2 linked regions of the Homo sapiens genome follow. The protein of the gene in region 1 interacts with the protein of each later gene in a pairwise test. Each region holds a gene or a part of one and is shown on either strand. Other genes may lie near its edges.

Region 1 (7,000 bases):
GAAGGCAGCAAGACAATCTTGCAAGGTTACTACTGGACCCCAAAACCAGCTAGGGACACATGAGACAACAAACCTGAAACATCATTGATAGAAAAAAAAGGAAGTGTTCTGCCAGTACAGCAGAAACAGCAGGTTTAACAATCATGTAATACAAAGAAAATAAATACATACCTCTTCACATATTCCATGAAAAAAGCTATCCACCCTTGTGGAGCATATGCTTCGCCACATGATCCTGCTTTGACTATAGAAGTTGGATGACTTGATGAATGCAGCTTAGCAAGGTCTTCCTTGCCAGGAATTGGCAAGGACAGATCTTGAAAGGTCTCGAGGGTTACAGACACCTAAAATTGTTTTGTGTTTTAAAAATGGGATGAACATAATGCAGTAAAACATTTCCAAGGTTAGATTTTAGACTCTAAAGATCAAAGCATGTTTAAATAAGCAAAAAAAACAAAAAACAAAAAAAAACACGCAAATTGAACTGCTTTCATAGTCATAATAGCAAAAAAAAAAACAAAAACAAAAAACAAAACACACTTGCTCTGTACCAGGTATCTTCACGTAAGTCCTGTGCAGTAGTATTAGCATCCCCATTACAATCACAGACACTGCAGCATTAAACACCCCAAATCCAGCCACTGCATCTTGAGGTCCAAACTCTTAAGCACTATTGTATTTATTTTTGAAAATTGACCTTTGATGGTAGTTTTAAAATATTTTTTTAAAAGGGTGAGACAAAATCTGGCATCTAATTTTAAATAGCTAAAAACATGCCTGATAATTCCACTTAAATATTTAGTACCAAAATAACCTACATTAAAACGACCCGATTGAAAGTTCTTAGATTTGACTTGAGATTCTAACACAATAATTGAAATCTTCTTTTTGTTTTTGAGATGTTATTTCATATTCATCATTGCACTAAAGTAAAACTGTACTTAAGAAAAGCTCAAAGAAACTTTGAAGAAGTGTTATTAAAAAATTCATGATGATTTTAATGTATGCTTTGTTATTGTCTATGAATTTGATACTACCTTTAGTATCTGAGTCCCATCCTAAACATGGAAAAATATTTACAAACCATATATGACCAAATGTAAGAGATACATTCACAGCTTTGTACCTGTGAATATCAACAGATTCCCAGTATACAAATTTCATCAGCCTGGGAGAATATGCAGGTGTTACCAATTCTTGTTGCTGAGCAACTTCTCACCTTTATATGTAACCAAAATAGATGACGAAGGATAATATGTGCCTGTCCAATGATGGGTCACCATCCTTTAAACAGGATGCTGCTACTTCCAAAAAAAATTCTACACCTAGAATCAAATTTGTGTTGATGTAAACACAATAAATGCATGTATGCTCATCAATAGCAAAGAGAAGGAATTAAACTTTTCACATCATCTTGTCACATTTTTAAAAATCATTTGACACGAATTTTCTGTGTATTCTAATACCCTCATACTCACCCTGTCACAAGTCAGACACTGCACTGAACTAATGATTGTTCCATCAAATATGTCTGAAATAACACTTCTGTATTTCTTGTGCTGTTTTTTTCTCTTTGGAGATGCAGACTGAGCTAGGATTGAAAAACATTAAAAAAAAATCAAAGCAGCTCCTTTAACATTTTTCTCTGGAATCTTTTTTTGTCTTGTCAATCTTACTTGTATATGATCTCTAGAATCCTTAAACTGTAAAAATTACTGTGTTGAAAATTTTCAAAATACTCTTCAAAAGAGCATAAGTATTAAAAAAATAAAAGAAACTAAGCAGACAAGGCTTAAGATATTTGTTGTTTTTTTTTGTTTTTTTGTTTTGAGGTGGAGTCTCGCACTGTTGCCCACACTGGAGTGCAGTGGTGCGATCTCGGCTCACTGCCAAGTTCTGCCTCCCGGGTTCATGCCATTCTCCTACCTTAGCCTCCCAAGTAGCTGGGACTACAGGCGCCCACCACCACGCCCAGCTATTTTTTTGTATTTTTAGTAGAGACAGGGTTTCACCATGTTAGCCAGGATAGTCTCGATCTCCTGACCTCATGATCCACCCACTTCAGCCTCCCAAAGTACTGAGATTACAGGCGTGAGCCACCGCACCCAGCCTGTTTTTTTTTTTAAAGTATAAATGATCCTTGGCCACCATAAATGTACATATGAGAAAATGAACAAAATTCTAAATTAGCACAAAACCACAAATGCTTCATCACTGGGATGTTTACTTAAATGTTTTACAAGTCAAAAGAAGAGGGGAAGAGGTTAGAAAGTGAGGGAAAGATGATGAAAGTCATCATCAAGCTAAAGATGAAATAGAAGGGGTTCGGTCTCCCTATCCTGACTTGAGAGCAATTCTGTTTTCACTTATTTGTTTTTGTCTCCAGGTAAGGCTTTATTTGAAGAAAAGATTCTATTATTTAAAGTTTTTAAGAGTTCTTTATATATTTCTGGATACATGTCCTTTGCTAGCTATATGATTTATAAATACATCCAACCTTATCTTTCCATTCTCTGAATGTCCTTTGTCAACAAAAATCTTTAATTTTTTTCTTTAATGGATCATGCTTTTAATGTCTTTAAGAACTCTTTGTCTAACCCAAGGCCATGAAGACTTTCTCCTATGTTTTCTTCTAAGAAAACATAATACTGGAACTCCCATATATACCTGGAAGGAATACTAAATGGTAGACACTCTGGTAAAAAGTCTGGCAGTTTAATACAACTATAAGCATTAAACAAACATAAAACCCAGTAACCCCACTTCTAGGTATTTGTCCTAGACAAATGAAAAAATGTTCTTACAAAAACCTATACATAAATTTTAGAGCAACATTATTCATAATTGCCAAAAATTGGAAACAATTCAAAAGTCCACCAGTAGGTAAATAAACAGTGGTATACCCATAAAAAATGAGATATTAGGCCGGGCATGGTGGCTCATGCCTGTAATTCTAACACTTTGGGAGGCAGAGGTGGGGAGATCACAAGGTCAGGAGTTCGAGACCAGCATGGCCCATCTCTACTAAAAATACAAAAAATTAGCCAGGCATGGTGGCGTGCACCTGTAGTCCCAGCTACTCGGGAGGCTGAGGCAGGAGAACTGCTTGAACCTGGCAGGCAGAGGTTGCAGTGGGCCAAGATTGCACCACTGTACTCCAGCCTGGGCGACAGTGAGACTCCATCTCAAAACAAAACAAAAAAAAAGAAACATTACTTGGTAGTAAAAGGAACAAACTATTCAGACACGCAGTAACATATCTGAATTTCAAATGCATTATCCTGAGAGGCAAACCTGTTTCAAAAGACTACATATGAAAAGATTTAAAAAAATCAAAAGACTACATACTATATGATTTCATTTATATGACATTCTAGGAAAAGGCAAAACAATAAGAAAAGAGGATCAAGGGTGCCAGAACATAGGAATAGAGAAATGATCTGATTACAAAGTAGTACTATGCAGGAATTCTTTGGGGTGTTAGAGCTGTTCTGTATTCTGTTTGTGGTGGTGGTAACAAGAATCTATGCTGCAAGTGTTAAAATTCATAAAGCTCTATACAAGAAAAAGTGAATTCAACTGTATGTAAAATTTTAAAAGCAGAGTACCAACACACAAAATTTTTAATCATGTCTATGTAAAATTATGCTATCAATTTTAAAAGATCAAATCATATTTCATAATTAACACTTTAAATTATCAAGTACCAAAACCATCATTTTAAACTAAGACCCAAAGCAAAAGAGACTGAATAAGAGAAACGTTTTACCTTTTTTGTGTGGTGGTGCCAATCCTGGCCACAAATTGCCTGATTTAGGAGGGCTTGCCGATAAACGTGGATTAACACCTTCATTTGATGGAAGGATCTGTGGTGTAGACAGGTCATTCGAATGGACATCAGTGATATATTCTGTAAGATTTAAAATTTGCATTATTACCTTAAATAGTAAAATTATTCTAACTGTCCAATAATGTTAAAGGTTTCTTAATTTGATATTTTGAACACAATCATATTAACAAATGTCAAGTTAAATACTTAACAAAGTGCTTACTAAGCAAAATAACAGTAATCTTCTACCCAGAAATCCAACTAATTTTTGTTTACTTGTTTTTTTGAGACAGAGTCTCCCTCTGTCCCCCAGGCTGCAGTGCAGAGGTGCGATCTCAGCTCACTGCAACCTCCGCATCCTGGATTCAAGCGATTCTTCTGCCTCAGCCTCCCAAGTAGCTGAGATTACAGGCATGTGCCACCAGGCCCACCTCATTTTTGTATTTTTAGTAGAGATGGGGTTTCACCATTTTGGCCAGGCTGGTCTCAAAGTCCTGGCCTCAAGTGATCCACCCACTTTGGCCTCCCAAAGTGTTGGGATTATAGGCATGAACCACCGTGCCCAATCCCAACTAATGTTTATAACACACGACTATTACAGGCAGTTTAGGAAGTGAGCAGTGGAAATACAAAGCCAAAGAGGATCTTGTTTGTCCAAATATAGCATTAAAAAAAAAAAAAGAGGCTAGGCTGGGTGGCTAACGCCTACAATCCCAACACTGGGAGGCCAAGGTGGGAAGACTGCTTGAGCCCAGGAGTTCAAGACCAACTGCGCAACATCATGAGACCCCCATCTCTACAAAAAAATCTAAAAATTAGCTGGGCATGGTGGTGTACACCTGTAGTGCTGGCTACTCAAGAGGCTGAGGTGGGAGGATCACTTGAGCCCAGGAGGTTGAGGCTGTGGTGAGATGTGATCATGCCACTGCACTCCAGCCTGGGTGACAGAATGAGACCCTGTTTCAGGAAAAAAAAAAAAAAAGATATTCAGGACAGGTTTTTAGAAGTTCTAAAACCATGTGAAAGAAAAATCGATTATTCTCCCAAACTAACATAATAATCAAAATCAAGAAATGTAGGTATAAAGTAATCATAAGTTATTTTATCTTACTATAATAAAAAATACACCACTTCATCAGGAAAGAATCTTTTTTTAGAATTAAATTATAAGATGAATCAAGAAAATATAAGAGCTACCTTGATTGTTTGCTTTGGATTCCTAGTGCCTAACATATTCCAGGGCAAGGGAATGTGCTCAGTAACTATTTGAGTGAAGAAAAGAGAATTGTTCGTAAGAGATCTGGAAAGGGGATGTACTCAGAAATTTTTCCAGATAATGCAAAATCATTTTTCACACAGGCATTTCTCAATATTTCAATCATGACTAAATCAGACTGCATAATATTGGGAGTGAAAAAACAACTCACTCTAGGACTTTCTGAAGGGAATAAAGTTAATGAGATTTAGATGGGGAGTTGGCAATTTTTTCCTCTAACGGACCAGAGATGAAGTGTTTTAGGTTTGTGTGCCTTACAGACTTCGCCAGATTTTTTTCATCAAGCCCTTAAAACACCTAAAAGCTCAGACTCCTGATTTAGGTCATCCCCTTGTTACTATGTGTAAGAACAAACCTGTTACAGAGCAATCAAAGATGAGTATGTCCCTAATCAGGCTTAACTGGGCTTTTGACAAGAAAAGCCTGGACAGCAGTCAAAGCTAAGTCTTTCAATACTGATACCTGACATATTTATTCACTAACAACTTCTACACAAGATCAGTATAATTAAGGAGCCTAACACTCCTAGTCTTCCCGATTAGAAAGCATCTGTGCACTTTACCCAAGTGAACCACAAGTCTTCCTATAGTTAATAATATTTTCAAGAAGAAATTTTGGATTCATTCAAATACCTAAATAAATTGCTTAGTTACTCTCACTCTTCAGTAATTACAGAAAATAAACTTTTTTACATTACATGTCTGCCACTTATTTTAAGATCACATAATTTGAACCTCTAATGGCCCAATTTTGTGTGCTTTGGAAAACTACATACCACATTTTAAGCCAAGATAAGTTAACTCTTGAAGAGATAAATTACAAAGCAATTCAACTTTCATTTGGCCACATGCTCTTTCTCAAAGGAACACTGACTAGTATCATGGCATAATCTATCACAGCAGGGCTCACTATAGTTAATTCAACTTCTACACTAAAACACATCTGATGTGACTCCAATGACAACAATCTAAATCTACTAGTGTATATAATTAGAAAATTGCAATTTGGGTTATTTGCTTTTTTCCAGGATCGCAACATAATTTGCTTAAAATAAAAGAGAAAATTCTGGGGAGCCCAATTTTTTAGATTACTGCATGACTACACAAAAGACATCTGATGAAATGTTTACTTCAAAAGGAGGATTAATTTCTTATATAATTAAATGACCCAAAAAATTCCTTTTATCCTCGGGTTCTATAATTTTATGACTAATACTCACATGCAAATACTGCTAAACTATAATTCTAATTAGAAATACCCAAAGTAACAATTATTTAAACACCCATGTCTACAAATGAAATACTATCATTTTCATGAACAAACTACTAAATTGTCACCTGAAGCTCTGCTGTGTATTTGCACTTTGACAGTTTCCTGGTTGTTTAAGTCGACTGTTTCAGATATAGAGTCTCTATCTTTATCAAATTCGCCTTCAGAATTTACTTTATTAATCTTATTGCACATCTTCTCTTTTTGCCAATCCTTTGACATTTCTGAATTGTTTTCATCATCCTGAATTAACATTGTTGTTTCATTATTATCTTCAGAAAAGCATCTAGAGCCATTTTCATTTTCTGCTCTATCACTGTTGCTACAAGATTCACAAGACTGAAAATCTACATCCGACTGGCTCTTGTCTTCTTCCATTGTCTCCTCAGTGGTTATGGTTTGCGGATCTTCTTCTACTTCCATGACTTGCTCTTTCAATTCTTCATGAAGCAAATCCATTAAACATCGAAGGAATTCTTGAGCATCCTAATATATCAGCAACATAATGTTAACCACTTCATTACATGTGTATATAGAAACGTAAGGGAAAATATACAAAATGTCATTACAAACTTATATATGAAGGTACAGCACTATATTGAGCAAATACCAGTTTGGAGAGCATA
Region 2 (7,368 bases), on another chromosome or scaffold:
CCTTTAGCTCCTCAGTTCTTTTGGTACCTAGGAATATAAATATTGGTGTATGTGTACATATATTCTTAGATATTCCAAAAAGCAGAGGGGCCAGTAGGCAAGAGGGTTGATGAGTCTTGGATAGGTGACAGTGGAAAGAAAGATGAAGAGGATGTGGAAGTGAGTGTCAAAGAGGGACGGTATATGTGCTTACTAGAAGCAATTGCAAAATTCTAGCCAGGTCTCAATTTCAAGTTTGTCACTTTAAAAAAAGTAGCTGCTTATAATTTTCCTTAGTGTTCTCCTGGCTGTTTTTGTTTTTGGTGATGGTGGCTAGTTGTTTTTTAGTTGAAATCTAAATGCAGAAAAGAAAAATGCCATTAATTGATAATTACCAATATATTGTTTTCATTGTTGCTTTTGTCAGTGCTTTGTGGGCATTTTTTATATATAGCATTGTTCCAAGCTATACGGCATGAGATGAAGGAAATATAGTAGTTTGGTCCTGCGTGCCTGGCTGCCTGTAAAGTTTGCCTACCTTTTGAATGAGTTTTCTGTTGCTGCATAACAAATTTCCCCAAACTTAGCAGCTTAAAACAACAGACATTTATGATCTCACACAGTTTCTGAAGTTGAAATCTGGGGACAGCTTGGCTGGGTGCTTCTGGCTCATGGTCTCTCCTGAGGTTGCAGTCATCTGAAGCTCGACTGGGACCAGAGGATCTGTTTCCAAAATGGCACGTTCACATGGCTGTTGGCTGGAGGCCTCAGTTCTACACCATGTGGGCCTATGCACAGGGCTTTTCACAACATAGCTTTTCTCCCCAGAGCAAGTGATCTGACGGGGGTGGGGAGAGAGGGAGAGAATGAATATGATAATGATCAAGATGGAAGCAGCAGTATATTCGTGGCTGATATGGTTTGGCTGTGTCCCTACCCAAATCTCACCTTGAATTGTAATCCCCATAATCCCCATACGTTGTGGGAGGGACTCGGTGGGAGGTAATTGAATCATGAGGGCAGTTTCTCCCATACTGTTCTCCTGATAGTGAGTTCTCACGTGATCTGATGGTTTTACAAGCGTCTGGCATTTCCCCTGCTGGCACTCATTCTCTCTCCTGCTGCCCTGTGAAGTGGTTCCTTCTGCCATGATTGTAAGTTTCCTGAGGCCTCCCCAGCCCTGCGGAACTGTGAGTCAATTAAACCCCTTTCCTTTATAAATTACCCAGTCTCGGATATTTCTTCATAGCAGCATGAGAACAGACTAATCCAGTGTCTAATCTTGGAGATGGCATACCATCCCTTCTACCAGCATTCAGACCAGACCTGGCACAATGTGGGAAAGGACTACAAGAGGGGAGGTCAGGGCACATCAGTATTCTTGGAGGCTAGCCACCACAACTTTTTTAAGGTTTAGTCCAGACATCATTGAGAAAATCTTTCTTTCAGATGTTTACTGAAGTATACTGTAGGAGATGGAAAGACAGCTGAGGTCTTTAGTATTGTAGAAGCTTTAATACTATATGTGAAACTTTTATGTTCTTTCTTCCGGTTCTTTGTTAGATGCTGGAATTAGCCAAGTATGCAGTAGCTTTGGAAATAGAAATTCAGATCTTGCTGGTCCCTAAACCAAAAGGAACATCTGAATTTTTTTCTTTAACCCCAAAACAAGTTGGTAAAAAAATATTGCCAAAGTAATCTCCTTTGATGAATGGCTTAAAATTAGTCATTCATTATCTGTGTGTTCTTAAAAATAAAACTCATTGGCAAAGTAGCTGAAAAATTTTGGGGAACCTAAACCCTCTTACTCCTCCCCATTATTTTAAAACTTTGGATACTGCTTGTTTGCCTAGCAGTTCTTCAGTTCACTTTTGAGACCCTCATACATTTTAATTATTGACCTGGATAGAAGGGCGCTATTCTTTTAGCTCCAGATGAAATCTTCCTGAAGTGCCTATAGGTGGAGAGAAGAGTTTCTGGATCCTGAGCCTGAGCCTGGCTAAATGACCTCTAAGTCCCTTCCATCTCTGAAAATTCTATGATCCTTATTTTTTTTTTATAACGAATATCCTTTGAGTTGTGCATATTTATAACAAAATATTTCATTGATCATGTTAAATTGCAACCTCAGAAGACAAGCTTTTCTGAGAATAGCTTTTGTTCTTCCCAATCCAGTTGAAGGTTGTTAGAGTCACTGTTAGGCAGAGTTGAAAAGTCAGCACTATTTGCACTTCCTCTGCTTCCTATTTTTGGCCCCTTGCCCATCCTCTGCCCTAATTTATGAGCTAGTATCTTTCTTTTCTTTCATTCTACTTTCCTTGTAATCCCCCTCCTTCCTCCCACAGGAAGGATTGGTGGCCAGTCCTTTACTGCTGATAGCTGATGCTATTGTTAGGAATGAATTTTAGCCAATGTGTTACCTCTAGTAATACTTGCATGGCAAACCTTTTAAAAATCTCAAATTATATGTGTTCATGTAGTAAACACTGCCATTTTTTAACATCCTAAGTAGCCCTAAAATTTAGTCACTTTCCTCATGTGCATTGTTGTCTCCTTAGTCCCCACCGTGTTGCCGGCCTGGCCTGGTGCATACCCACATCTGCTCTTGACCCCTCTGTTTTTCTACTCTGTAGCCAGAATTACCTTTTCAACATTCAAGCCTAATTATGTTACCCATTGACTTGAAACACTTCAGTGGCTTTCCAGTGCTTTCAGTCAAAGGTCCCAAATCCCTCAACTTGGCCTACACTGGGGTCTTGAATGATCCCGCCCTTCCTTACCTCCTCAGTGTCATCTTGTACTGGGCTCTGCCTCTTTCTCTCTGCTGCAGATAGCTGTGAAGGTCTTTCTCGAGTTTCTTGAGTGGACTTTGCTTCCTCTTGCTTCAGGCCTTCCTGAATGCAGTGTGTGTGTGTGCAGGCACGCGTGATTGGGGGTGGGGGAGTGTGGAGGAGTCCTAGGTAGGAAAGCGCTTGGCACATTCACAGGGCTGGAAGAAGGCAAGGAAAAGGCCACGGAGGCCACGGCCAGTGGAGGGTTTAGCTGCCGCTCATGGTGAGCCTTTAAGGAGCGTTAAGCACAGTTTCATGTGCAGTGTTAGAAGCCCCATTGGAAGGGCTGTGTGGAGAACAGATTGAAGAGGGGCTGGAGTGGTAATGAGGGGTCACTTAGGAAGCTGGGGCTGTTGAATGAATGGTGGCAGAGAAGATGGAAGAAGTGCATGGCTTTGAAATGTATGTTGGAGATGGAATAGCTAGAAATGGTCATGAATTGAGCTGGGGAGAGGCAATGGGAGTCAAAAATGACTTCCAGGTCCCTGGCTTTGGTAACGATACGGATACTAGCGTGTCCGGAATTGGTGGGTTCTTGGGCTCACTGACTTCAAGAATGAAGCCGCGGACCCTCGCGGTGAGTGTTACAGCTCTTAAGGTGGCACGTCTGGAGTCTGTCCCTTCTGATGTTCAGATGTGTTCGGAGTTTCTTCCTTCTGGTGGGTTCGTGGTCTCGCTGGCTCAGGAGTGAAGCTGCAGACCTTCGCGGTGAGTGTTACAGCTCTTAAGGTAGCGCGTCTGGAGTTGTTCGTTCCTCCCGGTGGGCTCGTGGTCTTGCTGGGCTCGGGAGTGAAGCTGCAGATCTTCGCGGTGAGTGTTACAGCTCATAAAAGCAGCGTGGACCCAAAGAGTGAGCAGTAGCAAGATTTATTGCAAAGAGTGAAAGAACAAAGCTTCCACAGCGTAGAAAGGGACCCCAGCGAGTTGCCAATGCTGGCTCGGGCAGCCTGCTTTTATTCTCTTATCTGGCCCCACCCACATCCTGCTGATTGGTAGAGCCGAATGGCCTGTTTTGTCAGGGCGCTGATTGGTGCGTTTACAATCCCTGAGCTAGATACAAAGGTTCTCCACGTCCCCATCAGATTAGTTAGATACAGAGTTTCCACACACAGGTTCTCCAGGGCCCCACCAGAGCAGCTAGATACAGAGTGTCAATTGGTGCATTCACAAACCTTGAGCTAAACACAGGGTGCTGATTGGTGTATTTACAATCCCTGAGCTAGACGTAAAGACTCTCCACGTCCTCACCAGAGCAGCTAGATACAGAGTGTCGATTGGTGCACTCACAAACCTTGAGCTAAACACAGGGTGCTGATTGGTGTATTTACAATCCACGAGCTAGATATAAAGACTCTCCACGTCCCCACCAGACTCAGGAGCCCAGCTGGCTTCACCTAGTGGATCCCGCACCGGGGCTGCAGGTGGAGCTGCCTGCCAGTCCTGCGCCATGCACTTGCATTCCTCAGCCCTTGGGTGGTCGATGGGACTGGGCGCCGTGGAGCAGGGGGTGGCGCTCGTCGGGGAGGCTCGGGCCGCACAGGAGCCCATGGAGTGGGTGGGAGGCTCAGGCATGGTGGGCTGCAGGTCCCAAGCCCTGCCCCGTGGGAAGGCAGCCAAGGCCCGGCGAGAAATCGAGCGCAGTGCCGGTGGGCCAGCACTGCTGGGGGACTCAGTACACCCTCCGCAGCCACTGGCCTGGCTGCTAAGTCCCTCATTGCCCGGGGCCAGCAGGGCTGGCTGGCTGCTCCGAGTGCGGGGCCCACCAAGCCCACGCCCACCCGGAACTCCAGCTGGCCCGCAAGTGCCGCACACAGCCCCGGTTCCTGCTCGTGCCTCTCCCTCCACACCTCCCTGCAAGCCGAGGGAGTGGGCTCCGGCCTTGGCCAGCCCAGAAAGGGGTTCCCGCAGTGCAGTGGGGGGACTGAAGGGCTCCTCAAATGCCACCAAAGTGGGAGCCCAGGCAGGGGAGGTGCCTAGAGCAAGCGAGGGCTCTGAGGATTTCCAGCATGCTGTCACCTCTCACTAGTAGTGACTTCAGTAGCTAATAAATGGGGGATAGTGAAGGAGCAGATTTTAAGAGGGAAGAATCAAGAATTCTATTTTGGGAATAAGTTGAGAATCTTGTGGCAGCCCAGTGGGCAGGGGCAGCAGCAAGGCTGTGAGCCTGGGGCCAGGAGAGCGGTCAGGGCTGCATCCTCAGGTTCGTAAGTTGTCTGTACAGCCACTGGGCTGTATGTGGTGCAGATGAGGAGGGAGCAAGACTGAGCTCCGAGAAGTGCTGACATCTAGATGGGGAGGAGGAATGCCTGGCAAGTGGCGCCGAGAAAGGGCCCAGAGAGCCACCCGGGAAGCACTCAGCCTGTGGGAGAATGTGGGCTGTGGAAGCCAGGAGGGATGGCCTCAGGAGGGGGACGCTGGAAGGGGCCCTATACAGGCCTGCTGCGGGCCTTCCCTTTCCAGGCAGCGTTTTGTCACTCTTGCTACTTGCTCATTTTAAAGAGGAGGAGGGCATGGGAAGGAAGAAAGAAGAGTTTTTATTGGAGCTAGCTACGTGGAGTTTGTGGGTGATCTTGATCTCACAAATTTCTGTGAGCTTATATTGGGAGGAAGTTGGATTGGAATGGTTTCCGTAAATAGTGAGGGAAGGAAACAAAGGCTTTTGCTACACAGTGTGGGGTCTGTGGGTCAGGAACATGATTAGAGACTAGGTTAGTGGTGCCAAATCTTGGGCTCCACTCCAGACCTACTGAATCAGAATATGCGTTTTCACAAGATTCCCAGGTAAACTATGCATTAAAGTTTGAGAAGCATTAGCACAGATAATTCCTATAGAGGAATTGTGTCATTAGCTAGAAGGATATATGGGGGTCAAAGGCACACACGCATGTGTGAATCTTTAGGGTGAAGATTCAATAGAACGTGTCTACATGCTGTTGGGGATGATCCTGTAGCAAAGTAAAGACTGATTGATGCTGCAGGAAGAAGGGTAGTGGTAGGAATTAAGTTCTTGGGCATGGTGGTGGTGGAGGGCTTGGCCTTTGCTAAGAGCAGGAATGTGTACTCCATGAGGCTGGAGACAAGGAGAAGAAGGGCGTGGAAGGTTTGTAGATTTGTTGAAGGAGCTCTGAGGGAGTTAGGGTTTGATGGCTTGGTGTTCTCTGGGACAAATGAGGTTAGGTTATCTGTCAAGAGTAAGCAGAGGGAGGGCACAGGGGAGAGTCACAGCGAGATTACTAGGAAGTGTGGGGGAATGCCCATTCGTGGTTTGTGATCATAAGTGCATTGAGAGTGGAGTGCTGGGAGGCTGCTTTCTTGAGTTTCTTTCCCTCGACAGCAGCATTTGCATGCTGGGTGCAGGTGCTGAAAACAGTGAGTGAGATGGAGGGGAAGGGAGCAGGGAGATGAGGTATCTGCAAGAGGGCTTTTCTCATGTCAGGCTTTGGGATCTAAGCTGGTGAAGGGAGGCAGTGCAGCCCAGAGGGTCTTGTTATGCAGAGAGAGAGTGCTGGAGGCCAATGCTTGCAGGTGTCAAGAGGGCAGAGAATTGTGTGTGGGGGTGGTATTTGAACAAGTGAGCAAGAAGGATGGAGGCTGAGGCTAGAGGGTTAGAGGAGATAACTGTTTCTGGTGACGGTGAAGTTCAGGTAATGACCATGATAATGTTAGATAGAAGGAAAGAAAGGGTTTTCGGAGAAGAGAGGATCAAGGACTTGAGAGGGGCCGAGCTTGGCTGGGACATCCACATGCACAGATGTCATTGGGGAGGACGACAGGAGTTGGGTAGAATGGAAGTCTGCAGACCAGAAGCAGATGTCCTCAATAAATGAGGGAAGTGACCAGGAAGTCTGTAGCTGATAGTAACAAGGTGAAGGACAGGCTATTATGGCTGGAAAGGCCAGGCCTCAAAGGTATGGGGGCTTTTGTAAGACGGATGGGGCTAACAGAGGTACTGAAGTGCAGGTGACATTGGGGAGGGAGGAAGGACACATATCTGGTCTGTCTGGCCCTGAAGCACATGGCATGGGAGGAGAAATAGCATCTGCTTGATGTGGTGTCCCCAGGGCACACCCAGGTCTCAGAGCTAGAAGGTAGAGGAACATTCTTAGAAGAGGTGGAGGCTCTCGAAGGGTTTGCTGGTGTGCCTGAGGTTGCAGGGACCAGGTGGGTTAGCCATTTCAGGAGATGGATGCAGTTCTGTTGGGTTGAGAGCCCTAGTCATAGGAAAGAGTGGGGACACCTGCACTTCTGGTGGTGACTGTTCAGGACAGATGTTCAGCAGTGTGCTCCCCTTAAGAGGAGGGTGGTCCTGTTCTAGCACCGTAGTTCCCAAACGTGGCTGGGGAGGTGGCAGCTTCCTTGTGTGATCCTCTCAGCCTTCACATACTGACACAGCAGGGAAGAGAAGGCAAGACTGTTTCTGTTAGAGCCGTTTCGGGAGTTGCTGGGGAGATTTAGGACAGGGACATCCTGAAATGCCCATTGGTTATGCCTCTAAGGCAAATTACGCTGTGTTTTGGGTGATGAAGAAAGAAGGGTGTGAAGGGCTTCTGTTGATGAA

Evidence for each region. The genes of interacting proteins can lie anywhere in the genome.
Region 2: the proteins of USP33 (region 1) and RALB interact in a two-hybrid assay, tested with the Homo sapiens proteins (one study listed by BioGRID).

What each region holds. Positions count from the first base shown.
Region 1 is NC_000001.11:77,721,853-77,728,852, forward strand, and holds part of USP33 (ubiquitin carboxyl-terminal hydrolase 33), read right to left. Parts: intron 6,861-7,000; coding exon 6,443-6,860; intron 3,911-6,442; coding exon 3,770-3,910; intron 1,592-3,769; coding exon 1,479-1,591; intron 345-1,478; coding exon 172-344; intron 74-171; coding exon 1-73. UniProt on the Homo sapiens protein: Deubiquitinating enzyme involved in various processes such as centrosome duplication, cellular migration and beta-2 adrenergic receptor/ADRB2 recycling.
Region 2 is NC_000002.12:120,255,485-120,262,852, forward strand, and holds part of RALB (ras-related protein Ral-B), read left to right. Parts: intron 1-7,368. UniProt on the Homo sapiens protein: Multifunctional GTPase involved in a variety of cellular processes including gene expression, cell migration, cell proliferation, oncogenic transformation and membrane trafficking.